Regions from separate parts of the Homo sapiens genome. Here regions 2, 3 and 4 are each linked to region 1. Evidence: fine-mapped expression QTL. A gene starts in region 1. Each other region holds a variant in brackets. All regions are shown on one strand. Distances are from middle to middle. Region 1 holds the start of ARHGEF18 (Rho/Rac guanine nucleotide exchange factor 18). Region 2 overlaps ARHGEF18 (Rho/Rac guanine nucleotide exchange factor 18). Region 3 overlaps ARHGEF18 (Rho/Rac guanine nucleotide exchange factor 18). Region 4 overlaps ARHGEF18 (Rho/Rac guanine nucleotide exchange factor 18).

What was found. PIP is the estimated chance that this variant, and not a neighbour inherited with it, causes the effect. A credible set is the group of variants that fine-mapping cannot tell apart.
Region 2: its variant is the best candidate, but not a certain one, in a credible set for the expression of ARHGEF18 in whole blood (INTERVAL, PIP 0.50).
Region 3: its variant is the best candidate, but not a certain one, in a credible set for the expression of ARHGEF18 in whole blood (INTERVAL, PIP 0.65).
Region 4: its variant is the best candidate, but not a certain one, in a credible set for the expression of ARHGEF18 in whole blood (INTERVAL, PIP 0.63).

The regions. Positions count from the first base shown.
Region 1 is chr19:7,344,701-7,352,493 of GRCh38, reverse strand. ARHGEF18 (Rho/Rac guanine nucleotide exchange factor 18) reads right to left here and starts at 3,557. Exons shown (of 29, transcript NM_001367823.1): 1 at 3,253-3,557. RefSeq lists an enhancer at 7,541-7,610.
Region 2 is chr19:7,459,003-7,466,720 of GRCh38, reverse strand. It overlaps ARHGEF18 (Rho/Rac guanine nucleotide exchange factor 18), which reads right to left. Exons shown (of 29, transcript NM_001367823.1): 20 at 6,727-6,818; 21 at 4,387-4,569; 22 at 2,766-2,903; 23 at 2,031-2,161. Among named protein-coding and RNA genes, the nearest start is that of PEX11G, 26 kb to the left of the region's middle. The variant G/C (reference allele first, on the strand shown) is at 2,303.
Region 3 is chr19:7,404,969-7,412,761 of GRCh38, reverse strand. All of the region lies in intron 10 of ARHGEF18 (Rho/Rac guanine nucleotide exchange factor 18), which reads right to left. Among named protein-coding and RNA genes, the nearest start is that of ARHGEF18-AS1, 14 kb to the right of the region's middle. RefSeq lists a silencer at 2,613-2,752. The variant G/A (reference allele first, on the strand shown) is at 3,459.
Region 4 is chr19:7,469,350-7,477,142 of GRCh38, reverse strand. ARHGEF18 (Rho/Rac guanine nucleotide exchange factor 18) reads right to left here. Exons shown (of 29, transcript NM_001367823.1): 28 at 7,114-7,239; 29 at 4,665-7,017. The coding sequence ends at 6,845. It overlaps PEX11G (peroxisomal biogenesis factor 11 gamma), which reads left to right. Exons shown (of 5, transcript NM_080662.4): 5 at 1-268. Among named protein-coding and RNA genes, the nearest start is that of PEX11G, 16 kb to the left of the region's middle. RefSeq lists an enhancer at 1-297 and a silencer at 3,939-3,988. The variant C/T (reference allele first, on the strand shown) is at 5,041.

The sequences.
Region 1 (7,793 bases):
TTTCCCTCACAAACAAGTTGTTGATTTGAACACAGTTCTTGAGTGAGTGGGAGGCAGACCAGAAAAAGCCTGAGAACCTGAATGTAGCTCTTAGCAATCTTATGTTGGGGAAATAAACATTGGAATTCAGGGCCCAAAAAGAGGAGGTGATTGCCACCCCTAAAAGACTACACCCTAGGAGCAAGGAGGGACCAGACATAGACTAGCCCTCACCGAGAGCAAAATCCATCTTCAAGTCAGCATAGGTCACAATCAGATTAAAGTGATCTTTCCTTTCTCTAACTGCCTGCCCAAAGCAAAAATAAACGCTCTATGGAGGAAAATGACACCATAAAGAGACACAAATTATCCCTATAGTTTTTCACAAACAAGGCCTGGCATTTAATCAGACTACCAGGCATACTAGAAGACAGAACCTCATGACCAAAAAACAAGAAGAAACACAGACAATAGCAACAGCCCTACAGGAGATAAAGATGCTAGAATTAAAAATACAACAGGCCAGGTGCAGTGGCTTACATCTGTAATCCCAGCACTTTGGGAGGCCAAGGCAGGTGGATCACCTGAGGTCAGGAATTCAAGACCAGCCTGGGTAACATGGTGAAACCCTGTCTCTACTAAAACTACTAAAATTAGCCAGGTGTGGTGGTATGCATTTATAATCCCAGCTACTCAGGAGGCTGAGGCAGGAGAACTGCTTGAACCCAGGAGGTGGAGGTTGCAGTGAGCTGAGACTGTGCCACTGCACTCCAGCCTGGGCAACTCTGTCTCAGAAAAAAAAAAAAAAAAGAGAGAGAGAGAGAGGCAGAGAGAAAATACAGTAGCATATGATACAGGGATGGCTGGATGGGATCCTTAAGAAGTCCACTCTAGCTGGGCACAGTGGGTCATGCCTGTAATCCCAGCACTTTGGGAGGCTGAGGTGGGGGGATCACAAGGTCAGGAGATCAAGACCATCCTGGCTAACACGGTGAAACCCCGTCTCTATTAAAAATACATAAAATTAGCCGGGCATGGTGGCGGGCGCCTGTAGTCCCAGCTACTTGGGAGGCTGAGGCAGGAGAATGGCGTGAACCCGGGAGGTGGAGCTTGCAGTGAGCCGAGATCGTGCCACTGCACTCCAGCCTGGGCAATAGAACAAGACTCCATCTCAAAACAAACAAACAAACAAACAAACAAACAAACAAAAGAAGTCCACTCTAGCAGACTTGCTTACAGATTGAGATCCACCATGGGTATGACCCAGAACATTTCAGAAGATGGTGGGACTGCTCAGGAAGGAAGGCCTGGGGACAAGGTCAGTATGAAGGCATAGGTGAGGCTGACAATGTTTTCTGATCTATTACGTGCCAGACACTGCACTAAGATCTCACAGACCAAACTTCATAAAGGCTGAGCGAGGTGGTTCATGCCTGTAATCCCAGCACTTTGGGAGGCCAAGGCAGGCAGATCACCTGAGGTCAGGAGTTCAAGACCAGCCTAACCAATATGGTGAAACCCTGTCTCTACTAAAAATACAAAAATTAGCTGGGCATGGAGGCGTGTGCCTGTAATCCCAGCTACTTGGGAGGCTGAGGCAGGAGAATTGCTTAAACCCGAGAGGCGGAGGTTGCAGTGAGCTGAGATTGCACCAATGTACTCCAGCCTGGGCGATAGAGCAAGATTCTATCTCCAACACACACACACACACACACACACACACACACACACACACACACACACACACCCACCCCAAAAAACTCAACAGCCTTTTAACAGATGAGCAAACGAAAGCTCAGAGCAGTTAAGTCATTTGCCCAAGGCCACATAGAGGCCAGGGAACTGGGATTTGAACGCCCAGCTGTCCAACACAGTCACCATGTCATCTACAACAGTATCGAGCATCAACATATGCCCATCCCTTTGTCATGGGCTAGGGGATGCCCAGGGAGGCATGGGAGACAGCCCAGACCAGAAGCACCGACGTGTTTGCAGTTGCCATCTACTGGTTCTTCAAGGCATAATGAAAAGGCTGCCTCTACCAAGCAGCCCTCCCAGAGTGACTCCCAGTCACAGCAAGGGAGTTGAAATGTGGCTGATTATGAGGGCAACCCTTTCCTGACCTCCTTTGGTTGTCATGTTCTTTTCTCAGAACTGCAGGTGACCTGGCCTTGGAGCATCAGCCCCCAGCGTCACTTCCTAGCTCCATCCTCTCTGGCCCCAGCTGTCCACTCTAGCTCAATTCACTCCCTCCTGGTTCTGGGGCCACCTTCCTAGACCTCAGGGTGCCTGAAGCCTGCCCTGCAGCATTGGGGGCTGGCAGGAAACAACAGACTGGGTGTGCCCAGCAGAAACCGCAGCCTTCCTCCCCCACCCCTCCCAGTCCCAGGCAGGCGGTGGTGCAGGAGGTCCCCCTAAGAAGGGGCCACGAGAGGAGACAGGGGATGTCTCCCAAGGGGGAGAACCCTCACCTGGAGGAAGGCTGCCTGGGTGGAGGGATGTGCTCTCTGGATGATTTCAGATCAGGACAAGACCCTTCTCAGGGCTGGTTGTCAGCCATCAGCCTTAAGTGTGAGTTTGTTTTGACAGTGGATTCAGAATCTGCAACAGGGAGGTTCTTGGGGGGCCCGGAATCTGCAGTTTAAGATGCAAAGGGCACCTGAGCCTTTGCCCCAGCTCCCCCATTCATTCTCTGTCTCCTGTCTCCACGCAGGAGGGCCTTGGCTACAAGGAGCTCTATCGTCCTTTCTTTGCTTTTCTTTTTCTTTTCTTTGTTTTGAGACTGAGAGGCTCACTTCAACCTCTACCTCCCGGGTTCAAGCCATTCTCCTGCCTCAGCCTCCCGAGTAGCTGAGATTACAGCTGCCCGCCACCACGCCTGGCTAATTTTTGTATTTTTAGTAGAGACGGGGTTTCACCATGTTGGCCGGGCTGGTCTCCAACTCTTGACCTCAAGTGATCCGCCCTCCTCAGCCTCCCAAAGTGCTAGGATTACAGGTGTGAGCCACCGCGCCCGGCCTCCACCCTCCTTTCTTACCTAGCAGCCCCTCAAGGATCCCCGTCCCCTGGGGTGACCTCTTATGACCACAGATCTCTGCACAATGAACGCAAGGGTCAAACAGCTTCCCCCACCCACTCAGGAAGCAAGTTGACTGCAAGGGGGAGAGAAACAGTGATGTATGTCTGCTCGCTGTCCCCCTAGACTTCCCAGACCCCACTGCCACTCTGTCCCGATGGGTCCATCTCTCTCCACTTCCCAGGATAAGTACTTACCAGATAGAGCTCAGTTCTTCAACCTGCAGGCACCTAGCCTGGCTAACAGCTCCTGCAGCTCCCATGACCTACGGCCAGCGTTTCGAGCTGGCCCAAGGGAACCGCTGGCTGGGTAGAGCCTGGGATAACCACAGAATGACCCAATAGCACCTCGACTTCCTCTTTCTCAACTGCCTGCCTGCATGCTTGCCACTCTGCTCCCAGCTGCAGGCCAATCTAGGGGCCTAAAAAGAGCCCAGAGGATGGGGGTTCTGGAGGCAGAGAGCCCTGCTCCCACCCCTCAGCCCTGCGCATGCAGGTGTCTTGAGGAGGAGGGGTGGGGAGCTGGAGGGAGGCCCAGCGTCCTCAACCCCCACCCCAGCAGCTTCCTGTGGAACCAACTGCTGAAGAGGAACAGGGTGTGGGGGCCTCACCCAGGCACATGGGTGTATAGACAGCAACATATAGGGACGTGCAGGTCATGTGTATCCGTAGAGACTCAGGCACCCAGACACACACCAGCATGGTGGGTACACACAGAGAGACAGAAACACACGTGGCTACATTGTTACATGGGTACCTGGAAGCTGGCGGAACAACATGGTGTGCTGGTAACGTTTAACAACCACCTCTCCGATTTGTAGCCATTGCCAATTCTCCTGGTGTAAATACCCCCAGCATGGCCGATTTCACCTACCAGTGTGATGTCACCGAGTGTGGAGTTGATAGGAAATGCTCAGATTTGGCTTTTTTTAGAAAACAACAACAACAACAACAAAAAACTGTTTATTTTATTTTTAGAGATAGGGTCTCATTCTGTCATCCAGTCTGGAGTGCAGTGGAAAAATCATAGCTCACTGCAGCCTCAATCTCTTGGGCTCAAGTGATCCTTCTGCTTCAGCCTCCTGAGTAGTTGGGATTACAGGCACATGCCACCATGCCTGGCTAAGTTTTTTGTTTACAGATAATTTATGTATAATTTATATATACTTTATATATAATTATATATGGATTATATATAGACTTATATATAATTTATATATAATTTTTTATATATAATTTTTCTTTTGAGACAGGCTCTCACTCTGTCATCCAGGCTGGAGTGCAGTGGGGGTGATTTTGGTTCATTGCAACCTCCATCCCCTGGGCTCAAGTGATCCTCCCACCTCCGCCTCCTGAGTAGCTGGGACCACAGGCACACATCACCACGCCTGGCTATTTTTTTTTGGTTTGTATTTTTAGTACAGACAGGGTCTCACCATATTGCCCAGGCTGGTCTCGAACTCCTGGGCTCAAGCAATCCTCCCACCTTGGCCTCCCAAAGTGCTGGGATTAGAGGCACGAGACATGGCGCCCAGCCTAAGTTAATTTTTTTTTTTTGTAGAGACAGGGATTTTATTATGTTTCCCAGGCTGGTCTCAAACTCCTGGGCTCAAGCAGTCCACCCGCCTTGGCCTCCCAAAGTGCTGGGATTACAGGCATGAGCCATGATGCTCCACTAAACTTGGCTCTTGGGCTGGCTTCAGCCTGTCACTGGAGTGAGTACTCTACAAAAAATTTAAAACTTCGCCACATTTGGTGGTGCCTGCCTGCAGTCCCAGCCGCTCCGGAGGCTGAGGCGGGGAGGCTCACTTGAGCCCAGGTGTTCAAAGCTGCAGTGACCTATAATTGTGCCACCGTACTCCAGCCTGGGTGACAGAGTGAAATCCCATTTTTTTTAAAGAAAGTTAAAATGGTAAATTTTACGTTATGCCTATTTTACCACATTTAAATTAATCACTTTAACATTATTTTTGCTGCATTTTCCATAATCTATGCTTTTTTTCCTTTTCCTTTTTTTTTTTTTTTTTTTTTTTTTTTTTTTTTTGAGATGGAGTCTTGCTCTGTTGCCCGGGCTGGAGTGCAGTGGTGCAATCTCAGCTCACTGCAACCTCTGCCTCCTGGGTTCAAGTGATTCTCCTGCCTCAGCCTCCCAGGTAGCTGGGATTATAGGTGACCCCCACCACACCAGGCTAATTTTTGTATTTTTAGTAGAGACGGGATTTCACTATGTTGGCCAGGCTGGTCTCGAACTCCGGACCTCAGAGGATTCGCCCACCTCAGCCTCCGGAAGTGCTGGGGTTACAGGTGTGAGCCACCACACCTGGCCTCATAATCTATGCTTTTGATGTTGCTTTTGTGTATGGAACCTGTTTGGTAGAAATACTGTATAATGGTTTGCTGCTGTCCATATCTTTCTGACTCACTGTTCGGTGGCATCACTTGAAATTGGCTGTGGCGAGAGTATTTACACCATGAGGACTGGCAATGCTATAAATCAGTGCTCTCCACTGGAGAGGTTCAACATTTACCAGCACACTACTGCACAGCGGTGCACACAGATGGTTTTGGGATACTGCACAATCACACTTCACACATGGTCACACATAGGCACAGGGACTCACAGAGGCAGATACAAGTGTGCACAACTACATGTAGGAGCCACCCCACACACAGAGGACACGAGACACATGCACGTGCACAACAGAGCACAACAGCGCTGCACAACAGGGCTGCAGGCTCCTGGAACACAAAGCTCAAGGACACACCCAGAGGACACACAAGGATACGCAAACACAGACACGTGTGCTCATGGGCACAACTTCACACAGGAGCATGCAGTGTCATGTGGACATGCAGAATGGGCATGCAGACACACATACACAACAAACACCCCGACACACATGTGGACTCACAGCCACAGTCACACAGAACACTCACACACACACACACACACACACACACACACGAGCAGATGCTGCTGGCCAGGCGCGGTGGCTCATGCCTATAATCTCAGCACTTTGGGAGGCCGAGGCAGGTGGATCACCTGAGGTCGGGAGTTTGAGTCCAGCCTGGCCAACGTGGTGAAAACCCATTTCTACTAAAAATATAAACATTAGCCGGGTGTGGTGGCATGTGCCTGTAATCCCAGCTACTCGGGAGGCTGAGGCAGGAGAATGGCTTGAACCCGGGAGGCGGAGGTTGCCGTGAGCCAAGATCATGCCACTGCACTCCAGCCTGGGCAACAGAGTGAGATTCCATCTTAAACAACAAACAAAAACAAAACAACAACAACAAAAAAGAGCAGATGCTGGCCACCTCTGAGAACACCTCTGGAGACACTGACTTGCACACCGGTTGCCACGGGACCACTCAAAATCACTAACACACAGACCCGGAAAGCCCTCACCACAAACACTCACTGGCCCATAGCGCCGCGCTTGTCCCTGGGGACACAGGTGGGGCCATCCCCAGAATCACACCAACGAGACACACACAGAACACAAGGAGACACAGATATACACAGATTTGCACACACCCATTCTGTAACCAGTTGATTATTTCTTTCAGGCAACATGCATTTATCGAGCACCTACTGTATGCCAGGCACTGTGGCAGGTGTGGGATCACGGTGAACAAGACAGACACAAACCCCCGCCCTGCAGGAGCTCCAGCTGGGGGAGGCAAACAGTGAATCAGGAAACACACCTAGGAGATAAATTCAGGTGCTGTGAATTGCCGCAACAGGAAGTAAACAGAGTGATGCGATAGAGTGGGTGGGGGAGGTTGATGCTTTAGCTGGGAAGGTCAGGGAAGGCCATTTGAGCTGAGATCTGTAAGCTCAGAAGAAGTCAGGCATATAAATCAATGTCTAGCTGGGCGTGGGGGCTCACGCCTGTAATCCCAGCACTTTGGGAGGCCGAGGCGGGTGGATCACGTGAGGTCAGTAGTTCAAGACCAGCCTGGCCAACATGGGGAAACCCCATCTCTTCTAAAAATACAAAAATTAGCCGGGTGTGGTGGCGTCTGTCTGTAATCCCAGCTACTCGGGACACAGAGGCAGGAGAATTACTTGAATCTGGGAGGCAGAGGCTGCAGTGAGCCGAGATTGTGCCACCCTACTCCCACCTGGGTGATAGAGTGAGAAAAAAAAAATCTAGGGGAAAGTTATTCTGGGTGGTAAAAACTGCCAGGGCAAAGGCTTGGAGGCAAGACTGAGCTTGGGGTGTTTGAGGAACAGAAGGAAGCAGGTGTGGCTGGAGCCAGGCGGAGGAGGACTGTCACAGGACCCAAAGTGCTGGGATTACAAATACGACACACCGCACCTGCCCTTTTCTCCCACTTTTGATAGAGACATAGCAGAGTGAAATATTTCTGTGCTGTAGAAATACTCTGTGCTGTTTGGGAGTACCGTCCACACTTCCTGTCCACGCTTCCCCACTCTCTGAACCCTGGCCTCTGTCCCCACTGCGCCCCGGACACCTGATATTGGCCTTAAGGCCGAATGCAGAGGCCACCCCTCGGCTGTGCACACCTGGCTCCCTTCCTTCCCCTCCACCACCCCGTCCAGCCCGCAGGGAGGGCCACCACCTGCTCTACCCTTTACTGCTTGCGTTGGTGGGAAAAGACACATAACATAACATTTACCCTTTTACCTTTTTTGTTTGTTTGTTTTTGAGACGGAGTCTCGCTCTGCTGCCCAGGCTGGAGTGCAGTGGCACGATCTCGGCTCACCGCAACCC
Region 2 (7,718 bases), 110 kb before region 1:
GCAATTCTCCTGCCTCAACCTCCCGAGTAATTGGGATTATAGGCTCAAGCCTCCACGCCTGGCTAATTTTGTGTATTTTTAGTAGAAACGGAGTTTCACCATGTTGGCCAGGCTGGTTGCAAACTCCTGACCTCAGGTGATCCGCCCGCCTCGGCCTCCCAAAGTGCTGGGATTACAGGCATGAGCCACCATGCCTGGCTTCTTTTTTTTTTTTTTGAGACAGGGCCTTGCTCTAGAGTGTAGTGGCCTGATCCTCCCACCTCGGCCTCCTGAGTAGCTGGGACTACAGGTGTGCACCACCAGGATCAGCTATTTTTAATTTTTTTTTTTTTTTTTTTTGAGATGGAGTTTTGCTCGTTGCCCAGGCTGGAGTGCAATGGCACGATCTCAGCTCACTGAAACCACCACCTTCCTGGTTCAAGTGATTCTCCTGCCTCAGCCTCCCAAATAGCTGGGATTACTCGAATGTGCCACCACGCCTGGCTAATTTTGTATATTTGGTAGAGGCGGGGTTTCACCATGTTGGTCAGGCTGGTCTCGAATTCCTGACCTCAGGTGATCCACCTGCCTTGGCTTCCCAAAGTGCTGGGATTACAGGCGTGAGCCACCACACCCAGCAGCTATTTTTAACTTTTTTGAAACAAAGTCTTGCTTGGTCGCCCAGGCTAGAGTGCAGTGGTGCAATCTCGGCTCACTGCAACCTCCACCTCCTAGGTTCAAGCGATTCTCCCACCTTAGCCTCCTGAGTAGCTGGGATTACAGGTATCCACCACCACGTCCAGCTAATTTTTATATTTTTAGTAGAGACAGGGTTTCACCATGTTGGCCAGGCTGGTCTCAAACCCTGGACTCAAGTGATCACCCGAGTCGGCCTCCTGAAGTGCTGGGATTACAGGCATGAGCCACCGCACCCAGCCAAAGGATCAGCTATTTTAAAAATATTTTGTCGACATGTGGTCTTGCTATGTTGCCCAGGCTGGTCTCAAACTCATGGCCTCAAGTGATCCTCCCAAGGCCAGGTATGGCGGCCTTGCCTATAATCCCAACACTTTGGGAGGCCCAGGCAGGAGGATTGCTTGAGCCCAGGAGTTGGAAACCAGCCTGGGCAACATAGTGAGACCCTGTATCTACCAAACATTTAAAAAATTAGTCAGGTGTGGGGGCGCGCACCTGTAGTTTCAGCTACTTGGGAGGCTGAGGTGGGAGGATTGCTTGAGCCTAGGAGTTAGAGGCTGTGTGAGCTGTGATCACGCCACTGCCCTCAAGCCTGGGTGACAGAGTGAGACCTTGTCTCCAAAAAAAAAAAAAAAAAGTGATCCTCCCACCTCGGTCTCCCAAAACACTGGGATTATGGGTGTGAGGCACTGCACCCGGCCCCTGCTTATTATTGAAAATACATCCCTTAGTGTGGATAACAGGAAGGACCCAGGACCGGGTCATGACTGGGAACACAGGCCCTGCTGGTCAGCTGACTTGTACAAATCTGGGTGTTTGGAAAACGAGGGGCTGGGGCCTCCTGGGAGGTAGAGTGGGCTTGGCTATGAGGCCTGCGTGCCAGCTCTGGCCACAGGGGCAAGTCCAAGCCTCAGAACTGATCAGAGGCAACTGGCCTTGGCCTCTGACCCCCTGACCTGGGCAGGGCCGAGTAGGCACCTGGCCTTCTGATTCAAAGGCAAAGGAATAGCCGGGGACATCTGGCATCTGGTAGGCACCACCACACCTGCCCCGGCTGAAAGCTGGTGGTCCCTGTAGGGGGTTCCTCGCCTGTTGATGAAGCCATGGTGAGTGCCCTGAGCCTGTCCCCTCCCCAGCCTTCCTCTTGGGGACCTCTTTGCTTTTCCCAGGAGGCTGCAGGAAGAAATCACCTGCCAGTGCATTAATCTGGGCTGAGATACTGTTATTCACCACAAAACAAACAATGCTTGTCGATGCTAATAAGACTAAAACTGGACAACCCCAGCAGAAGCTGCTCACACACATGAATCCTTATGACGACTCAGACTGTACCGAGCAAATGGATATCCACGTACCACCTGCGGCGATTCCTCAGAGCTCCCAGGAATGTCACTGTCACTGAGCTTCAAGTCCGGGCTGTTTGGGGGGCCTCGCCAGTCTCGGGGCCTGGGGTCAGTGCTGCTGACTTTCTTCTTGAAACTGCCATCTGAGAACCCCAAGCCAGGGGCATGAGGATGCTGCCATCCCGTGGGGAGGGGGAAGCTTCCCAGTCCACCCCCAGCCCCTGCCCAGGTAGGAAACCCAGGCTAGGCCCGAATGGTGGCGTCTGCAGCACAGACGCCTGCTG[G/C]AGAGGGGCAGGCTGGTCTGGGTGCTGCTGTCACAACACAACCAACGATGTCTGGAGGGTTTCAGAAGGTTCCAGAAAATCGGCTGGGTGCGGTGGCTCACACCTGCAATCTCAGCACTTTGGGAGGCTGAGGCGGGCGGATCACCTGAAGTCAGGAGTTCGAGACCAGCCTGGCCAACATGGTGAAACCCCATTTCTACTAAAAATACAAAAAGTAGCCGGGCATGGTGGCGTGTGCTTATAGTCCCAGCTACTTGGTAGGCTGAGGCGGGAGAATCACTTGAACCCAGGAGGCAGAGGTTGCAGAGAGCTGAGATTGCGCCACTGCACTCCAGCCTGGGTGACAGAGCAAGACTCTGTCTCAACAACAACAAAAAAGAAAGTTCTAGGAAACCCCATACAAGTTAATGTGCATCCTGAGGGGCGGCCCTGGAGGCAGGAGGGGAGACGGCCCCGCTCTTACTCTTGGTGGGGCTGTTTGTGCAGTCGTAGCCCGCGAAGGTCTCAGCCCTCCTGGGCGGGCCTGTGGAGCTGCCTCCGTCTTCCGCCTGGCCGTTGGCGCTGCCCAGCTGCCTGCAGATCAGGCTCTGGATGCCCTCGACTGTGGAAGGAAGGGGACAGGAGGCACGGGTCGCCCTGCGGAAGTGTGCTGGGGGAATACGGAGCGCTGGGGCAGCGAGACCCGGGTGGACGGAGGGACTCACTGGGGTGGTGATCGCCTGCCCCCTTCTGTGTGCCGTGGGATTTCAGCCCCACTGTCCCTGCGCACACCCTTACTTCAGGTATGGCCACCAGGACAGGCCAATCTGCGTCTAAGTGAGAGGACAGGGCTGTGGGGCAGCCATGGGGAGGGCGGGTACAGGCTCCTGCAGCTCCTTCCACCAGGCCGCCCTGGGCCAGGGGCTGGCGAATGCTGGATGTGGCCCTGCCCAGGGCCAGCAGGAAACACTTGGTGTGTTATATGACAATGACCATACACTGATTGTGTGACAATGGCCATATGGGAGAGTGACTTTGTGGGGAAGGGCTGTCTACAGAAAGCCCTCTAGGACCAACAGGCTGTGGCCAGGCACAGAGGTGGGGACAAGAACATTCCAGGCCAAGGTGCGGGATATGAGAGTGTCCCCAGGGGGCCAAGAACAATGGCCACTGGAGCCGGGTGGAAGGATGTCAGTGGGCCTGGAGGGAGAAAGACTGACCCCCGTCTCTGCCGTCTTATTCTGCGGAAAGGCTCTGGAAGGCAGGGGCTGAGTCGGCTTCCCTCACTGTTGAAAGAGCAGATTGAGGCAGGGCGCGGTGGCTCACGCCTATAATCCCAGCACCTTGGGAGGCAGAGGAGGGTGGATCATCTGAGGTCAGGAGTTCGAGACCAGCCTGGCCAACATGGTGAAACCCCATCTCTACGAAAAATACAAAAATTAGCTGGGCGTGGTGGTGGGTGCCTGTAATCCCAGCTACCCAGGAGGCTGAGGCAGAATTACTTAAACCCAGGAGGTGGAGGTTGCAGTGAGCCGAGATCACGCCACTGCACTCCAGCCTGGGTGACAAAGCGAGACTCCATCTCAAAAAAAAAAAAAAAAAAGAAAAGAAAAAAAGAAAGAGCAGACTGGGCGCTGACTGCCTGCTCAAGCGGCCAGCCCAGGGGCCTGGCGGCTGTGTTAGAGCTGTGCGTGGGGACCCACTGAGGGAGTGTGCGTGTGTTTTTCTGGGGATATCACCAGGACCCACCTCCCAGGAAGAAGAGGAACCTCTGGTAGGTAGGGAACCAGTCTTAGTCAACTTCAGATCCTCCCCACGGCCCGGCTTAGAGCCTCTGCATGCAGGGAGCATCAGAGCGGTTGTTGAACGGGGAGAAAGTGCTTTATGTCTGCAAGGAGCGGCTTGGCCCAGATTATGTCTAAGGCCCTTCTGGCTCTCACAGGCACCGGGGGGCGGTCAGTGCTGCTCCTGGGCCCCCCCCACATAGAAGCCTGTCCTGGACAGGGTGCCGTGTCGGCCACAATGAGCCGTGAGCCTGGCCTGGGGTTCCCTGAGGAGCCCACCCCGGCAAGACTGCACCCTTGAGGTGTGGGCAGCCAACTTACTCTCGCTCATGGCCGACTTGAGAATTAGCTCCCCCTGCAGGGTCTCGGATGGGTCCCCTCCACGGAATAGGCCTCGGGGCTGGGGCAGGTCTTCGAGGCCGCCCATCTCGGCCATCTCCAGGTAGATCTGCTGTTTCTCTAGGAGGCTCTGTGCGATCAGCTGGTCTTTCATGCTCAACCGCTCTGCAGAGTGATGGTGGAGGTGGCAGTCAGCCGGGTCGGCCTTCCCTGGAATCATCTGAGCCCCGGGGACTGGCCTAAGGATGAGGAACCCCGCTGGCCCTGCCCTGAGGTAGGCTGCCCCCTTGTGTCCTGCATTCCTGGGAGGTAGGGGAGGGCATGGCCTTGTCCTCTGATTATTTTCCCCCTTGTTATAAAAATCAGGTTAGCTGTGGTGGCTCAGGCCTGCGATCCCAGTACTTAGGGAAGCCAAGGTAGGAGGACTCTTGCGGCCTGGAGTTCGAGACCAGCCTGGACAACATAATGAGACTCTGTCTCTACAAATAAAAAATTAGCTGGTTGTGGTGGTGCATGCCTGGGAAATGAGGCAGGAGGATCGCTTGAGCCCAGGAGTTCAAGGCTGCAGTGAGCTATGACTGCAGTACTGTACTCCAGCCTGGCCAACAAAGCAAGATCCTGTCTCTAAAAGAAATAAAATAAAATCAAACACAGTAGGGTGTGAGTGAGGATTGTATCAGGCCCATTTATTAGTCTGGGACCAACTTAGAGCCTTAGAAAACTGAATTTTCCATCCTCCCTTTCTTTCTTTCCTTCCTTCTTCTTTTGAGAAGGAGTCTCGCTCTGTCGCCCAGGCTGGAGTGCAGTGGCACAATCTCGGCTCACTGCAACCTCCACCTCCCGGGTTCAAGCGATTCTCCTGCCTCAGCCTCCCGAGTAGCTGGGACTATAGGCACGCACCACCATGCCTGGCTAATTTTTTGTATTTTTAGTAGAAACGGGGTTTTGCCATCTTGGCCAGGCTGGTCTCAAACTCCTGATCTCAAATGATCCACCTGCTTTGGCCTCCCAAAGTGCTGGGATTACAGGCGTGAGCCACCGCACCCAGCCTAATTTTTAAATTTTTTGTAGAGACAGGGTTTTGCCATGTTGTCCAGGCTGGTCTCAAACTCCTGGCTTCCAGTGATCCATCTGCCTCAGCCTCCCAAAGTGCAGGGATTACAGGCATGAGCCACCATACCAGGCCACTTATTGTTTGAGTATTATCCAATTTAGAAATGAATAATACAGGGCCGGGAGCGGTGGCTCACGCCTGTAATCCCAGCACTTTGGGAGGCCGAGGCAGGCAGATCACGAGGTCGAGAGATTGAGACCATCCTGGCCAACATGGTGAAACCCCATCTCTACTAAAAACACAAAAATTAGTGGGGCGTGGTGGCGGGTGCCTATAGTCCCAGCTACTCGGGAGGCTGAGGGAGGAGAATCTCTTGGACCTGATAGGCAGAGCTTGCAGTAAGCCGAGATCACGCCACTGCATTCCAGCCTGGTGACAGAGCGAGGCTCTGTTTAAAAAAAAAAAAGAAGATAAAATAAAAAAAAATACAGACAGTGAAAGGGAAGAAGGGAGCTTGCCGCAGGCTACAGGGCACCAGGAATTGTTCTTGACAAAGTGCTCACTGAGCGCGGGCGAACCTTAATACCACACCTCGAGAGGAGCCAGACCCAAAAGGCCGCGCGGTGTGACTCCATTTATGTGGAATGTCCAGGGCAGGCCAATCTACAGGGACAGGAAGTAGATTCCTGTTGCCAGGGTTGGGGCATGGGGTGGGGAGTGACTGTTAAGGGGGACGGGGCTTCTTTCTGGGGTGGTGGGATGTTCTAAAGTTAACATGATTCTGGCTGCATAATTGGAAATGCACTGAAATGCCCCTGAACCCCACGCTTGGGAGGGTGAGTGCTGTGGTGTGTGAATTACATCTCAATCGTGTAATTAAACAGGGAGGAGGAAGCTCTGGAAGGAGGCTGTGGGGACCCTGTGCTATTCCTTCGTATGGGACTGGGATGCCCTGTTGAGCTCCTGGCTGCACGAGGATGGGGTGGTGGTGGCGTGTGTGGCTGTGTGGTCGGCTCTGGAAGGGGCTCAGGTCCTCTGGGCTCTCCTCCCTCCCTCTCCCACATACCCCCAAAGGGCTAAGTGACCTCTGGAGATCGCTATGTCATGGCACAGCCCGTTCTAATGCTTCACAGAGCTGCAGGACATGGCACAGCCCACGGGAAAACACCGGGTCACCTGGGGGGCAGTTCACCCTCTGTGGCCAGTCCTGATGGAGGGCCCAGGGCTCACCACACAAGGGGTGTGCCCAGACGCTGTCTCCCGCTCACCTTGAAAGTCCCGGAGTCTCGTGGCGCGGGCCTCGACCACCTTCCTTTCCTCTTCGGGCAGGCTGAAGGGCCCCTCCTCCTCGTCAGGGCAGCTGCAGGGAGAGGAGTCGGGTGGGTAACTGTGCTTCCCAGGCAGGCCAGCCTCGGCACAGACGCTGGTTCTGCAGAACCAGCCGCCACGACCGTCTCTGACTTTGGGAGTGATTTAGCTTGTTCGTGGTGCAGGAGGACGAGGAGGGGAAGAGAGAGAGCCACTGACATTCATCCCGCCCCAAAGCGCCAGGGCATAACCAGGAAGAGGCTTTACATGCCTGCCTGTGACTTAGAGGAGGAGTCCAGGGGACAGCGGGCTTGCAGAGGACCTGCCAGGTGCAGGTGGGTGGCTGCAAGCCCCGTAGAGCTACAGCTACTGTGGATGGGGGAGTCTGAACCAGATTAAGGCACCAGGAAGCCTCCGGGAATCAAGAGAGGGAGTGGACAGGCATGGTGGCTCACGCCTGTAATCCCAACACTTTGGGAGGCCAAGACAGGAGGATGGCTTGAGGCCAGGAGTTCAAGACCAGCCTGGGCAACACAGTGAGGCCCCATCTCTACAAAAATAAAAAATCTAGCTGGGTGTGGTGGTGTATGCCTGTAGTTCAAGCTACTTGGGAGGCCGAGGGGGTAGGATGGCTTGAGCCCAGGAGTTTGGGTTGCAATAAGCTATGATTGTGCCAGCGCACTCCAGCCTGGGTGATAGAGCAAGAGCCAGACTCTAAAAAACAAAACAAAACAAAACAAAATAGGCTGGGCGCAGTGGCTCACGCCTGTAATCCCAGCTACTCGGGGAGGCTGAGGCAGCAGAATCGTTTGAACCTGGGAGGCGGAGGCTGCAGTGAGCCGAGATTGCATCACTGCACTCCAGCCTGGGTGACAGAGCAAGACTCTGTCTCAAAAAAATAAAAAATAAAGAGAGGGAGGGGAAGCCAGCTGGTTCTGGGCCCTGAGGGGTG
Region 3 (7,793 bases), 60 kb before region 1:
TTTACTTTTTTTTTTTTTTTGAGACAGAGTCTTGCTCTGTCACCCAGGCTCCAGTGCAGTGGCTCGATCTCAGTTCACTGCAACCTCCGCCTCCTGGGTTCAAGTGATTCTCCTGCCTCAGCCTCCTGAGTAGCTGGGATTACAGGCGCCTGCCACCACGCCCGGCTACTTTATGTATTTTTAGTAAAGACGGGGTTTTGCCATGTTGGCCAGGCTGGTCTGGAACTCCTGACCTCAGGTGATCCGCCCACCTTCGTCTCCCAAAGTGCTGGGATTACAGGCTGAGCCACCGTTCCTGGCCTAAAATGGTATAATTTAAAAAACCGAAAATTAAGTGTCTCGGTGAGAAGGCGGAGAAACCAGGACCCTCATACACTGCTGGTAGGAAGGTAAAATGGGGCAGCTGCTATGGAAGACAGCTTGGTGGTTCCTAAAAACCCTAGCATAGGCCGGGCGCGGTGGCTCACGCCTCTAATCCCAGCACTTTGGGAGGCCGAGGAGGCCGGAATACGAAGTCAGGAGTTCGAGACCAGCCTGACCAACACTAAAAATACAAAAATTAGCCGGGTGTGGTGGCGCGCCCCTGTAATCCCAGCTACTTGGGAGGCTGAGGCAGGAGAATTGCTTGAACCCGGGAGGCAGAGGTTGCAGTGAGCCAAGATCACGCCACTGCACTGCAGCCTGCGTGACAGAGCGAGACTCCATCTCAAAAAAAAAAAAGAAAAACCAAACAAAAAAACACAAAACATGGAAATAAGTGTGCATGTATAGATGAATGGATAAACAAAACGTGACATACACGCACACTGTAATATTATTCAGCCTTAAGAAGGAAGTTCTGACACACAGATGGACCTTGAGGACACTATGCTCAGTGAAATAAGCCAGTCACAAAAGAATACATCGTATGTGACTCCACTTCTAGGAGGTCCCTAGAGTTGTCAGATTCATAGAGACAGGAAGTAGAATGGTGGGTGCCAAGGGCTGGGGAGGGGGATGGAGAGTGAGTGTTTTATGAGGACAGAGTTGCAGCTTGGGAAGAGGAGAAAGTTCTAGAGATGGATGGTGGTGATGGTAGCATCAGCAATGTGTATGTGTTTAATGCCACCAACCTGTGCACTTAAAAAATGATTTTTTTAAAAAAAGATGCCACTTGGCTGGGCACGGTGGCTGACACCTGTCATCCCAGCACTTTGGGAGGCCGAGGTGGGCAGACCACTTGAGGTCAGGAGTTCAAGACCAGCCTGGCCAACATGGTGAAAGCCTGTGTCTACTAAAAATACAAAACTTAGCTGGACATGGTGGTGTGCACCTGTAATCCCATCTACTTGGGAGGCTGAGGCAGGAGAACTGCTTGAACCTGGGAGGTGGAGGTTGCAGTGAGCTGAGATCACACCACTGCCCTCCAGCCTGGGCAACAGGGCAAGACTCTGTCAAGAAAAGAAATAGAAAAGAAAAGGGAAGGGGAGGGGAGGGAAAGGGAAAGGGGAAGGGGAAGGGGAAGGGGAAGAGGTAGGGGAAAGGAACAGGAAGAAAAGAAGGAAAGAGAGAAGCTTGGTGTGCAACTTCATTTTTAACATATCTGACAAAAGAAAGTGCCTAAGGCCAGGTCTCAGGTGGAGAGGCCCTGCGCTGCCCAGGCTTGTTCTGAGATCCTCTGCTTCCTTTTGTGCAAATTTCACACTATTTTCTGGTATCAGGATGGAGGGACCTTCAATATCACCTATAGATATTGCAGATGCTGAAAAAGCATCTGCCTTGTGAGTATTTCTCTTGACACTGGGTACAGGCCAGATGCTGAAGTATAAGAGGTCCCAGCAAAACTATTCCACCCCCTGAGGCCTTCTTAGGAAGGGCAGTGCGTGGCATTTTTTAAACAATTATGTTAGTTCTATTGACTGGGCAGAAATCAAAATGACAAGGGTGAAAAACCTTTTTTTTTTTTTTTTTTTGAGATGGAGTCTCACGCTGCTGCCCAGGCTGGAGTGCAATAGCACAATCTCAGATCACTGCAACCTCTGCTTCTCAGGTTCAAGCGATTCTCGTGCCTCAGCCTCCCAAGTAAATGGGATTATAGGTGCATGCCACCACACCCAGCTAATTTTTTTATTTTTAGTAGAGATGGGGTTTTACCGTGTTGGCCAGGCTGGTCTCGAACTCCTGACCTCAGATGATCTGCCAGCCTCAGCCTCCCAAAGTGCTGGGATTTACAGGCGCGAACCACCATGCCCAGCCCCTGAAAAACATTTTGATGAAAAGAAGACTGATTCTGAAAACATTAATTCAGGTCTAGTTACATAGCTGAAATCTTCCAGAAAGCTGGAAGATTTATATACATATGTGTGTGTGTATGTATGTGTGTGTGTATATATATATATATTTCAAGCCAACAATTTTAATGTGGGAAATAAACAGCAAATAAATGTCAGCAGAGGTGACTCTAAGACGGACAGAGGAAACCAAACACCTGAGAGAGGCCGGGGGTTTCTCTTTCAGCAGATCAAAAGCAATCAGTCACAGGCGGAAGGCAGGGCAGCAAAACAGGTGTGCAGAATGCCAGAAAAAACCCTGTTTGCCTTCAATGGGCGGGGAAAGTATTCAAGGGCACTGCATTTCTGGAAAAAGGGAACTGCAATGATGTCAGGGCTGGTGAACCTTAGAAAAACCCTTCACAGGCCGGGCATGATGGCTCACGCCTGTAATCCCAGCACTTTGGGAGGCCAAGGCGGGTGGATCACGAGGTCAGGAGTTCAAGACCAACCTGGCCAACATGGTAAAACCCCATCTCTGCTAAAAAAAAAAAAAAAAAATACAAAAAAAATTAGCCGGGTGTGGTGGCAGGCACCTGTAATCCCAGCTACTTGGGAGGCTGAGGCAGGAGAATCGCTTGAACTTGGAGGGCGGAGGTTGCAGTAAGTAAGCTGAGGTTGCACCACTGCACTCCAGCCTAGGCGACAGAGTGAGACTCCATCTCAATAAAAAAAAAAAAAAAAGAAAGAAAGAAAGAAAAACCCCTCACAGGCCAGGCGCGATGGCTCACGCCTGTAATCCCAACACTCTGGGAGGCCGAGGTGGGCCTTGGCTCAAGTGTGAGTTCAGGTGTTTGAGACCAGCCTGGCCAACATGGTGAAACCCCGTGTTTACTAAAAAATACAAAAATACAAAAATTAGCTGGAGGTGGTGGCAGGCGCCTGTAATCCCAGCTACTTGGGAGGCTGAGGCAGGAGAATAGCTTGAACTCAGGAGGTGGAGGTTACAGTGAGCCGAGATTGTACCACTGCACTCCAGCTTGGGTGATAGAGTGGCCTCCAACTCAAAAAAAAAAAAAAAAGACTCTTCATTAGTTTCCAATCTAATCCAAACTCTCACAGAGGCCAACCTTTCCATAGCATGGACTGGGACTGCCATTAAGTCTTTTTTTTTTTTTTTTTTTTAAGAAACAGGGTCGGCCGGACGCG[G/A]TGGATCACAAGGTCAGGAGATCAAGACCATCCCGGCTGACATGGTGAAACCCAGTCTCTACTAAAAATACAAAAAATTAGCCGGGCGAGGTGGTGGGCGCCTGTAGTCCCAGCTTCTTGGGAGGCTGAGGTAGGAGAATGGCATGAACCCAGGAGGCGGAGCTTGCAGTGAGCCGAGAACACGCCACTGCACTCCAGCCTGGGCGACAGAGCGAGACTCCAACTCAAAAAAAAAAAAAAAAAAAAGAAACAGGGTCTTGCTCTTGCCCAGGCTGGAATGCAGTGGTGCAATCACGGCTCACTGCAGTCTCGAACTCCTGGACTCAAGCGATCTTCCTGCCTCAGCCTCCCAAGTAGCTGGGACTATAGGTGCACACTACCTACCTGTAGTCACCACGCGTGTGTAAGTTTATATATTTCTTTTTGTAGAGATGGGGTCTCACTATGTTGCCCAAGCTGGTCTTGAACTCTTGGGTTCAAGTGATCCTCCCGCCTTAGCCTCCCAAAGTGTGAGATTACAGGCGTGAGCCACTGCACTCAGCCGGTCTTGTTGTTTTCATCTGGGGGGACTCAAACTCTATGTTGAACACCCCCAGGCTTGCAAATACCACAACAGATCATTACTCCCTTAGAAAACACACTGCAGGATAAAGAGGGGCCCCTCAGGGAGCTGCTGCTCATGGATGGGCCCAGATTGTGAAGAGGTCAACCTGGGACACAGCTGCTAAGCTCATGAGACAGGTGAGGGCCTCCTGTTCCCTAACCCGCATCCCTCGCCAAATTTAGTCAGACCATTGTGGCCCTAGAAACAGAACTGTAAAAATGATGCGTCTACTGTAGGGGCTGGTGAACCCCTACTGTCTGTGGGCTGGCCACCTGTTTTTGTAAATAAAATTTTATCAGAACACGGCCACGCCCACTTGTTTCTCTGTTGTCTGTGGCTTCTTTTGAGTTGAGTGGCTGTGACAGAGGCTATGTGGGCTGCAAAGCCTGAAATATTTATTATCTGGCTCTTTCTCTTTTTTTTGAAACAGGGTCTCACTTTATCATCCAGGCTGGAGGCAGTGGTGCGATTTCGGCTCACTGCAACTTCAACCTCCCGAGTTCAAGCAATTCTCCTGTCTCACCCCCCAAGTAGCTGGGATTATAGGCATAAGCCACAATGCCTGGATAATTTTTGTATTTTTAGTAGAGATGGGGTTTCACCACGTTACCCAGGCTGGTCTCCAACTCCTGGGATCAAGTGATCTGCCCACCTCTGCCTCCTGAAATGCTGAGATTACAGGCGTGAGCCACTGCACCCAGCCTACTACCTCTTTTTTTTTTTTTTTTTTTTTTTTTTGAGACGGAGTCTCGCTCTGTTGCCCAGGCTGGAGTGCAGTGGCGCGGTCTCGGCTCACTGCAAGCTCCGCCTCCTGGGTTCACGCCATTCTCCTGCCTCAGCCTCCCGAGTAGCTGGGACTCCAGGCGCGGCCACCACGCCCGGCTAGTTTTTTTGTATTTTCAGTAGAGACGGGGTTTCACCGTTTTAGTCAAGATGGTCTTAATCTCCTGACCTCGTGATCCGCCCGTCTCGGCCTCTACCTAGCTCTTAACAGAAAAAATTTGCTGGCCCCTGGCCTACTATATCTAATTGGTTTGTTCTGGAAGGGAGAGCCTATTTCCAAGAATTCAAATGCAACCAGCTGGGCTCATGCAGTCTGGGAACTCCCAATGCTCTATCCCTGATGTGCAGAAGGAACCGGAATAAAAGGAGTGGCAAAGTGGATTCGCTGTGCAAAGTCATTACTGAATTCCAGACGCTTGAAATTGCCCATGCTGGGAGCAAACAGGCCACAAACAAGTAGCAAAGAGGTTGGTTTCTTTTTTTTTTTTTTTGAGACTCAGTCTCACTCTGTCACCCAGGCTGGGGTACAGTGGCTCAATCTCGGCTCGCTTCAACCCCCACCTCTTGGGTTCCAGCGATTCTCCTGCCTCAGCCTCCTGAGTAGCTGGGATTACAGGTGCCCGCCACCACACCCGGCTAATTTTTGCATTTTTAGTAGAGACGGGGTTTTCACCATGTTGGCCAGGCTGGTCTCGAACTCCTGACCTCAGGTGATCCACCCACCTTGGCCTCCCAAAGTGCTGGGATTACCAGCGTGAGCCACCATGCCTGGCCAGTGGTTGGTTTCTGAGCATCTCAAGTTCCCTACCATCCTGAGTATGATGGCTATAACCTTTTTTTTTTTTTTTTTTTGAGACGGAGTCTTGCCTTGTCGCCCAGGCTGGAGTGCAGTGGCACGATCTCCGCTCACTGCAAGCTCTGCTTCCCGGGTTCATGCCATTCTCCTGCCTCAGCCTCCCAAGTAGCTGGGACTACAGGCGCCCGCCACCACGCCCGGCTAATTTTTGTTTTTTTTTGTTTTTTTTTAGTAGAGACGGGGTTTCACTGTGTTAGCCAGGATGGTCTCAATCTCCTGACCTCATGATCCGCCCACCTCGGCCTCCCAAAGTGCTGGGATTACAGGCGTGAGCCACTGTGCCAGGTGGCTATAACTATTAATATAAGTCAGCAACCAGCTCCTACGCTAGGAAAATTCCAGAACCTTGCAAAGACCTTCATTAGCATTCCTTTTAGAACTGCAACAGTGTGAGCTTGAATATATTTTAACATATCCTGTGTCTCAAGGTCAGCTCGTAAGCTAGGTGCAGGGGAAGGCAGCTGGTACAGCTTTGTTTTTTGCCCTCTCTGAATCTATAACACTTTTGTGTTTGATGAAGGTGGTATCTGAATGCAGGGGAAGGAAAAGATTATATGGAGTATAGGCACACGGCCAGACATTTGACAGACTGTAATATCAGATTCCTACTCATACGTTTTGGCAAATTATATTCACAGAGAATTCAGATTTAGAAGCTTTTCAAAAAGAATCTGGAGGCCAGGTGTGGTGGCTCACGCTTGTAATCCCAGCACTTTGGGAGGCCGAGGTGGGTGGATCACCTGAGGTCAGGGGTTCGAGACCAGCCTGGCCAACATGGTGAAACCCTGTCTCTACTAAAAATACAAAAATTAGCCAAGCGTGGTGGCACGCGCCTGTAATCCCAGCTACCTGGGAGGCTGAGGCAGGAGAATCGCTTGAACCCAAGCGGATGGTGGAGGTTGCAGTGAGCCGAGATAGCGCCAACGCACTCCAGCCTAGGTGACAGAGCGAAACTCCGTCTCAATAACAACAACAACAAAAAGAATCTGGTGTTCTCCTGAAGACCTCCTCTTTCCTCTCTGCAATTAACTGGTTCTAAAGAGTGAGACCTTCTACATTTACTTCAACTTCAAAATACTGGAAAATCACTGTGTTGTAAAGAGCCTAAGAAATGAGTGCCAATAGCTTGTAAACTTGTTCTAGGCTGGGAATGGTGACTCCCACCTGGAATCCCGGTGTTTTGGGAGGCTGAAGCAGGATCCCTTGAGCCCAAGAGTTTAAGACCAGCCTGGGCAATATGGTGGAACCCCATCTCTACAAAACAGCATTACAAAAACCAACAATTAGCCAGGCGTGGTGGTGCATGCCTGTGGTCCCAGCTACTCAGGAGGCTGAGGCGGGAGGATTGCTTGAGCCTGGCAGGTAGAGGTTGCAGTGAGCTATGATCGCACCACTGCACTCCAGCCTGGGCAACAGAGCAAGACCCTGTTTCAAAAACAAAAACTAAAACAAAACAAATTTGTTGTTTACAAATCGCTAGAAATAGGAGGTTCCTGAAGTGGGCTGAACAGTGTCCCACCAAAATTCACGTCCACTAAGAACCCTGGAATATGGACTTCTTTGGAAAGAGAGCCTGGGGCAGAGGTCATTAGTTAAGGATCTCGGGATGAAATTTCGATTTAGGGTGGGCCCTAGAGCCTATGACTGGTGTCTGTGTAGAGAAAGGAGAGGGAGATTTAGAGACACAGATACAGAGGGGAAACACACACACAGGTGAAGGCCACGTGACCACGGAGGGTGTGGAATGACATGGCTACAAGCCGAGGAATCCCTAGGGCCACCTTTTAGAAGTTGGAAGAGGTCGCTGGGCGCGGTGGCTCACGCCTGTAATCCCAGCACTTTGGGAGGCTGAGGCGGGCGGATTGCCTGAGGTCAGGAGTTTGAGACCAGCCTGACTGACATGGTGAAACCTCGTGTCTACTAAAAATATAAAAAATAAGCTGGGCATAGTGGCGGGCACCTATAATCCCAGTTACTGGGGAGGCTGAGGCAGGAGAATCTCTTAAACTCAGTACACAGAGGTTGCAGTGAGCCAAGATCATGCCATTACACTCCAGCCTGGGTGAGTGAGACTCCATCTCAAAAAAATAAA
Region 4 (7,793 bases), 120 kb before region 1:
AGAAGCCGCCAGGGCAGGGGCCGGGGCTCTCATGGAGCTGCCTGTGGTGAAACCCATGGGCAGGGTGGGTGGAGGGACTGATGCGAGGTCCCCCAGGCCTCAGCCTGGAGCTCCTGAGCCGTGACAGTTTTCAGGGGCCGTGCAGGGCTTCAGCAGCACCTCCTGCCTGCCAGCTGGCGTCTTGTATCCAAATCAAGATGAGGAAGAGGGGGCCTGTCGTGCCTTGAGAAAGCTGGAACGGGAATCAATTAAACATTGTGGTGCTGGCGCCTGGCTCAGGGGTGAAGGTTATTACACTGCTGGCTCCTGGCCCCTTACCCTCCACAGGACGGACCCAAAGTTGGAAACCACACTACCCCAGCCCACCTTCAGGAATGCCCTCAGCCCGGTGGGTCCTCTCCATCTTTGAGCAAGCGTTGCCCACGGACCCCAAGTGGCCTCCAGCCATTGAGGGCTGTTCTCTACTCCCCAGAGTCCTGGGCACACAGGCCAGAGGCGCCACCTCTCATCAGGCCACCCGAGGGCGTGGCCTCATGCCACTGTGCTGCCGACGCAGGGCCACTGTGAGCATTTTAAGGGCTCCAGGCTGAGACTGGGCAACACACACTGGCATCGCTGAAGATACTTGGGGCTCCCACCTCAGCCAATGTGTGGTGGGATGGGATGAGGGCACTGCTTAGTCTGCTGGCTGAGAACAACCCTTCAGAGTCTGTGCACATGTGGCCTCTGGCAGACATTGTTGCACAGCCTGGCCCAGGAACACACAACAGCCAGTGTGTGTGCGCCCTTGGGCCTCATGTGATATCAATTGCACTGCCTTGATTTTTATCTTTTTGACCCAGGATCTCTGTCACCCAGGCTGGAGTGCAGTGGTGCGATCATAGCCTCACTGCAGCCTCAAACTCCTGGGCTCAAGGGATCCTCCTACCTCAGCCTCCTGAATAGCAGGAACTACAGGTGTTTATCACCAAATCCAGCTAATTTTTAAACTTTTTGTAGAGACAGGGTCTCACCACATTGCCCAGGCTGGTCTTGAACTCCTGGCTTCAAGTGAGCTGCCTGCCTCGGCCTCCCAGAGTACATTTGTGGTTTGTTTTTTACAAGGAAGATACCAGGTGGCTCTGAGCAGCTGGGAGGCCGGGGACTGCTCAGGGTCACACGGGTGCGGGAGACCCCATCTGTGGGGGCTCCTTCTGCCCAGGACTCACGAGTGGGCCAGGCTTGGTGGGTTTCCCCCTTCTTTCCCTTGTCGGGGGTGCAGGCCTGTCCTGGCCCTCAGCAGAGGCCTCCTTCCCAGCCCCTAGCAGCACCTGCATGATTAGGGCATCTCATTGTCTACCTGGAGACCCAACTACTTACTAGCTCATACCAGTGGGGCCCTTGGAGCAGCGCCTCTGTGTGGGGAAGCCACATGACCACCTGGTCACAGGTGCCAGGAGGAAAAGCAAGCCACCTTCAGGGATACAGCCTGGGCTGGGAAGGCCTTGGACACTGACCATGTGGAGCCCAGGCACAGAGCAGACAGGTTGGATGCTTCCAGAAAGGGAGGCCGCTCTCCCACTCTCTCAGCTGGTCCAGTGGTTGTGTGTGTGTGTGGTTGTGTGTGTGTGTGTGTGTTTAAACAGTTTTATGGAAATATAATTCACATATAAAATTTATCCACAGAAGGGGGACAGTTCAGTGGCTTTTAGTACATTCACAGTCGTGCAAGCAGAGCCACAGTCAACCTTAGAACATTCCATCACCCCAGAGAGAAACCTCACACCCCTCAGCTGTTACCCACCCGCAGCCCCCAGGCTTGGTGACCACTACTCTGTCCCTGGGTTGCCCATTCTGGTCCAGTGGTTTTCAACCTTTTAGGGGCTGGGAACAGACCCCTTTGTGAACCTTAAAGACTACGGGCCCTCTTTTTTGAGACAGAGTCACTCTGTCGCCTAGGCTGGAGTGCGGTGGCGCGATCTCGGCTCACTGCAACCTCCGCCTCCTGGGTTCAAGCAATTCTCTGCCTCAGCCTCCCGAGTAGCTGGGACTACAGGCACGCCCAAGCATGCCTGGCTAATTTTGTATTTTTAGTAGAAACGGGGTTTCACCACGTTGCCCAGGCTGGTCTTGAACTCCTGTGCTCAAGTGATTCACCCACTTCGGCCTCCCAAAGTGCTGGGATTATAGGCGTGGGCCACCGTGCCCAGCCACTACAGGCCCTCTTTGCAGAACATCTCATTTTAGGGTGCCTCCAAGCCCCCCAGGGCCCATAAGGAGTGCTGAGGAAGGCTGGGGGCATCCCAGTGGAGGGGTCAGCTAGGCAGAGGTCAGAGGACGGCTGGGGTTGGGGTGGAGCAAATCAGAGGGTGGGGGGAGACACACACACACACACACACACACACACACTCCAATGCCCACCATCAGGAGAATAGCAACTGGCCAGTTTTATGTTGTGTGCATTTGACCACAATGAAGAAAAAATAGACCAGGCGCGGTGGCTCACGCCTGTAATCCCAGCACTTTGGGAGGCCGAGACAGGCAGATCACCTGAGATTAGGAGTTCAAGACCAGCCTGGTCAACATGGTGAAACCCCATCTCTACAAAAATGCAAAAATTAGCCGGGCATGATGGTGGGTGCCTGTAATCCCAGCTACTCGGGAGGCTGAGGCAGGATAATTACTTGAACCTGGGAGGCGGCGGTTGCAGTGAGTCAAGATAGCGTGCCACTGCACTCCAGCCTGGGTGACAGAGCAAGACTCCATGTCAAAAAAATAAATAAAAATGTAATAAATTAATTACATCCTTTTTTTCTTTTTTTTTTGAGACGAAGTCTCACTGTTGTCCCCCAGGCTGGAGTGCAATCGTGCAGTCTCGGCTCACTGCAACCTCCGCCTCCGGGTTCAACCGCTTCTCTTGCCTCAGCCCCCAGAGTAGCTGGAATTACAGGTGTTTGCCACCACGCCCGGCTGATTTTTGTGTTTTTAGTAGAGATGGGGTTTCAACATGTTGGCCAGGCTGGTCTCAAACTCCGGACCTCAGGTGATCTGCCTGCCTCGGCCTCCCAAAGTGCTGGGATTACAGGCGTGAGCCACTGCGTCCAGCCCTTTTTTCTTTTTTTTTTAAATTTCATTTCTTTTTTCTATCCCCCAAATTTCCTTTTTTTTTTTTAAGCTCTTATAGACAGGGTCTCACCATGTTGCCTAGGCTGGAGTGCAGTGGCACGATCATAGCTCACTGCAACTTTGAACCCCTAGGCTCAAGCAATCCTCCTGCCTTGGCCTCCTGTGTAGCTGGGATTACAGGTGCACGCCACCATACCTGGCTAATTTTTTTTTTTTTTTTTTTTTTTTTGAGACGGAGTCTCGCTCTATTGCCTAGGCTGAGTGCAGTGGCGCAATCTCGGCTCACCGCAAGCTCCGCCTCCTGGGTTCACGCCATTCTCCTGCTTCAGCCTCCCGAGTAGCTGGGACTACAGGCGCCCGCCACCACGCCCGGCTAATTTCTGTATTTTTAGTTGAGACGGGGTTTCACCTTGTTAGCCAGGATGGTCTCGATCTCCTGACCTCGTAATCTGCCCACCTTGGCTTCCCAAAGTGCTGGGATTACACGCGTGAGCCACTGCGCCCGGCCAACCTGGCTAATTTTTTAATTTTTCTGTGAAGGGGTTTCACTATGTTGCCCAGGCTGGTCTTGAACTCCTGGGCTCAAGCTATCCTCCTGCCTCAGCCCCCGCCTCCCCAAAATGCTGGGATTACAGGGATGAGCCACTGTGCCCGGCCCTCCTTTTACTTTTTTAATATGGCTACTAAAAATGAAAAATTCCACACGTGGCCTGCATCATCTTCCTGGTGGACAGTGCTGCCTGAGAGTTCCCTTTTTGCGCTTCCTAGTGAGCTAGTGATCGACTTTACACCTAGTCCCCTTGTGATGGGAAACCCTCTGTTGAAACAGCAGGGTCCTCGCCTCACTGGACCGGGACTCAGACCAGGTGGAAATGATGATTTCATACTCATGGCCAAGCTGCCTCTCACCCCAGATGGAGGAAGTGAAAGTTCCAGCCTTTGCGGTTATTGTGGATTAAAAGCAAAAAGATTTTCGTGGAGGCGCCACCAAAGCCTGAAGTGTACCCGGTGGGCAGGACCCTCCACAGGCACCTCCACGCCCCACTCCTGCCCTGTGCCCGTAATCCCAGCACTTTGGGAGGCTGAGGCGGGCAGATCACTTGAGGTCAGGAGTTCGAGACCAGCCTCGCCAACATGGCGAAACCCCATGTCTACTAAAAAAATACAAAAATTAGCTGGGCGTGGTGGTGCACACCTGTAATCCCAGCTACTCAGGAGGCTGAGGCAGGAGAAGTGCTTGAACCCGGGAGGCAGAGGTTGCAGTGAGCTGAGAACCTGCCACTGGTCTCCAGCCTGGGCGACAGAGCAAGACTCTGTCTCAAAAAAACAAACAAACCAAAAAAACAGAAACAAAAACAAAAACAAAACCCCCAACAACTCCTGGGGACTGGACCTGAAGGGGTCTTCAGAGCGTTAAGCAGGACACGGAGGGCAGGTGAGCGAGCTGAGGGGCAGGAGCCATGGGGAGCCCCCAACAGAACCTGCTACTCCTGCAGCAACGTTTGGGCAGAAGAAAATCCTCAAATAAAACCTCCAAGAACGTGCACGCCAGTCACCGCTCATCTCGGACACGTTTATTGCTAGAATCAGGTCTTAAGTTCTAAAGCGGGTCAGAAATATCCCGCAGTGAGGAAATGTTGTAATCATTGTAAAAATAATTAGCAGGTGACTAAGATCATGACCACAACTGACAAAGACGTGTGCAGATCCCACGAAAATAGGAACATTTGCTCGACTGTCAACTTTACAAATAAAATCGGGCTCCAACCCAGGAGTGGCCGAGGGGCACTGGCGAGGGAAGGGCTGTCGGCGCTGCCGCCCGATGCCTAGCACGACTGAGACCCCTCTGCCACATGGCGGGGACGCGGGGTTCCCACCGCGTGGCCGAGCAGAAATTCCTTGAACTTCTCCCCCATCCAAGGAATTGTGGCATCT[C/T]GGAGGGCTGGACCGGCACACGCCGGCTCAGGAGGGTGCCAGGGTCTGGGAATGTTCTCTTCACAACAGAACAGGAATGTACAGTCAGCTTCTGTAAAGTGCTCCGATACTCAGTACAAAAATACAAAACACTGATGATAAACATGGCACACATGGGATCTGACGGGGGGCGGACAGCGTCGCTGATGGCCAGGGACCGGGCTGGGCAGAGTTGAGGTCGTCGGAGGGGCCAGGAGCCTGGGGACACCTGGCCACTGTGTTCTCAGGACCTTGTCACCAATGGGCTGTATGGCTGTGGGGCTCTGGTTCCCGGTTGGCACCAGCTCCTGCCCCGCCCCCTCCTGAGCCCACAGCACCCAGTGGGCGCCTCTGCCCAGGGGAGCACTTCCTGATGGAGTTTCCCCTCCCTTGTGCCCATCTGTCCCCGAGTGGCGGGAATGTCCCTGTTCACTGTATTCAGCGTCACAGGAGTGCCTCTGCCAGCACAGTGGGAGAAGGGCTGAATCCCCCCGGGATCTGCAGTTCCCAGGACCCTGGGTTCGGGAGAAGGACTTGGCCCTGGCAGGGGCTCACATGTACCCCACTGGGAACAAGGACGATCAGCCAGGACCCAGTCCTACCACCAATGCTTGGGGTGCAGAACAAGGCTTGACATGGGCCCTTTCTCCACCGGAGCTGGATCGTGGATGGATCTCACCACCCTGGGATGTCCCAGCACCTTTGATGCTGCCCAACACCTCCTTCCTCCACCCCTCCAGGGAACGGACCGTAAGCTGCAACAGCTCACTACAAGCGAGGGGCCCGCACAGCGGCCACTTGTCCACTTGCTGCAACGTCTCTAGGTGCATCCTCTGCATGCCCTGGGACATGGCGCTCTCGACAGTCTGTGATGTGCCAGCCCCCACCTGGAAGGTGGGACGCCAGCCCTGGGAGCTCATTTCCCGGGGGCTGAGGACCCTGTGCCCAGGGTGTGTACCCGCCCTGGCTGAAGCTAGAGGCCCGCTCCCCCAGACAGGCTGAGCGTGTGAACAGCAACGGTTGCCCTTGGGAAGCAGAGTTTGGGAAACAGCTGGTTTCAAAACCAATGCCAAGTAAAAAGGGGCAAAGGTCAGCCCCTTTCACGATGGGCTTCCAAACCCACAGAACCTGACTGGAGGGCCACTGATGTTCCCTCAGTGGGCCCTGCCCCGTGGCCCTCTCTGCCCATGCCCCCGTGCCTGGCTCATTCCCTGACCCTGAGGTTCATGGTGAACCTGCGTGGGGCTCTGTTTGGGAAGTGGATTCTGCCTGATTCTGGGGACAGATGCTGCCGACGCCACCTGGCCCCTCCTGGTGCCCTAACCCTTGGCTCCACTGTCGCGCGGCGGCTGTGGAGCGTGGCCCCGGCCGGCAGCTCCTTCTCAAAGCAAGGTCTGTCCTGTCCTCAGCTCCGTGCAGAGCCGGCACCGTTCCTCACTGCCTCGGAAAAACAGCTCGGAGTTGATCTCCCCGCCACCCGGATGGGGTGCTATGATTTCAGACAGCTCCCTGGTTTAGTTCTGGCTCAACTTTCCATTAAAAACTTTCCTTTTTGAAAAAAAAAAAAAGAGATTCAGAAAGTGACCCCGGCACCACCGCTAACCCTACAGAAACAGCTGCAAGGCCCAGAGCACCGACAGGCTGGCCCCTGCCAGGCGGTCATCAGTGGTTTGCTAGGGAAGAGGAGGGGACAGCTGGGTGGGCATGGTGACCCCATGGGGGTCCCCAGAGAGCAGGAAGGGTGGGCAGGGCAGGGAGGGGCCTTGCACCTTGAGTCACGGCCCTTTTAGAAGAAGATGACGTCTTCTTTGCTGGCGTCCTCCTTGGCGCTGAGTGGTGTGGCCGGCAGTGGCGAGGGAGCTGGGGGCCCGGGCAGGAGGGCTGTGCCCCCGGCCTTGAGAGAGAAGCCCTCGGAGGGGCTGTCAGCTGGCGGTGGGCTCGGGGCGGGGAAGCCAGGGTCTGGAACAGAGAGAGGGTTCAGACTGAGCAGTCGCCGGGTGGTGCCGCAGCCCCGCTGCCCTGGGACTGGGCTCATGTCAGGGGGTGGGGGCTCACCTGGTGGGGGCGCAGGACTGTGTCTGCCGGGCAGGATAGGGCTCAGCGAGCGGCGGTTCCGTGAGGTGCTCTCATCTTTCCCCATGAGCTTGTTGAGCAGCAGCTGCTGCTTCAGGTCGAAGGACGCTGGAAGAGAGAAGGTATTTGGGCCAGCTCCAGGCTGGCCAGCTGTCCCCACCCGCCAGGGCAGCCTCCGAGAGCAGAGGGGCCTGGCCACCCCCACCTGACACTTCCCACGGGCGGCCTGGATCCCGTGACCTGAGCTGCTCAGATGCTAAGCCCCAGATTCAGGGAGAACGGCCCCAACCTCCCTGCGGAAGGACCTGCAGAGTCACCCGGCATCTGGAGAGGAGGCTGAGCCTCCTGTGGAAATAGCACAGGCCCTAGTGACCACGGGACACACCCTTAATCTTCAGAGAACATCCCAGAACATCCCTGGTTGTCCCCCAGGGAGGTGTCCCCCAGAGGAGCTCCTGGACATCCTCCGTGGAAACACTGGGGCTGCTCTGGGCTCCGTGTCCCACTCTGTGGAACGGCTCTGTGGAACTGGGACAATGAGCAGAGGCGCCTGCACCTGTCCCTGTCCCGGCTGTGCTGATCCCACGTGGCCAGGGATCTCTGCCTTCTTGCCCGTGTCCCTTTCTAAGGCTCCTGGTCCCCATCCCACTGTTTTGAGGGTT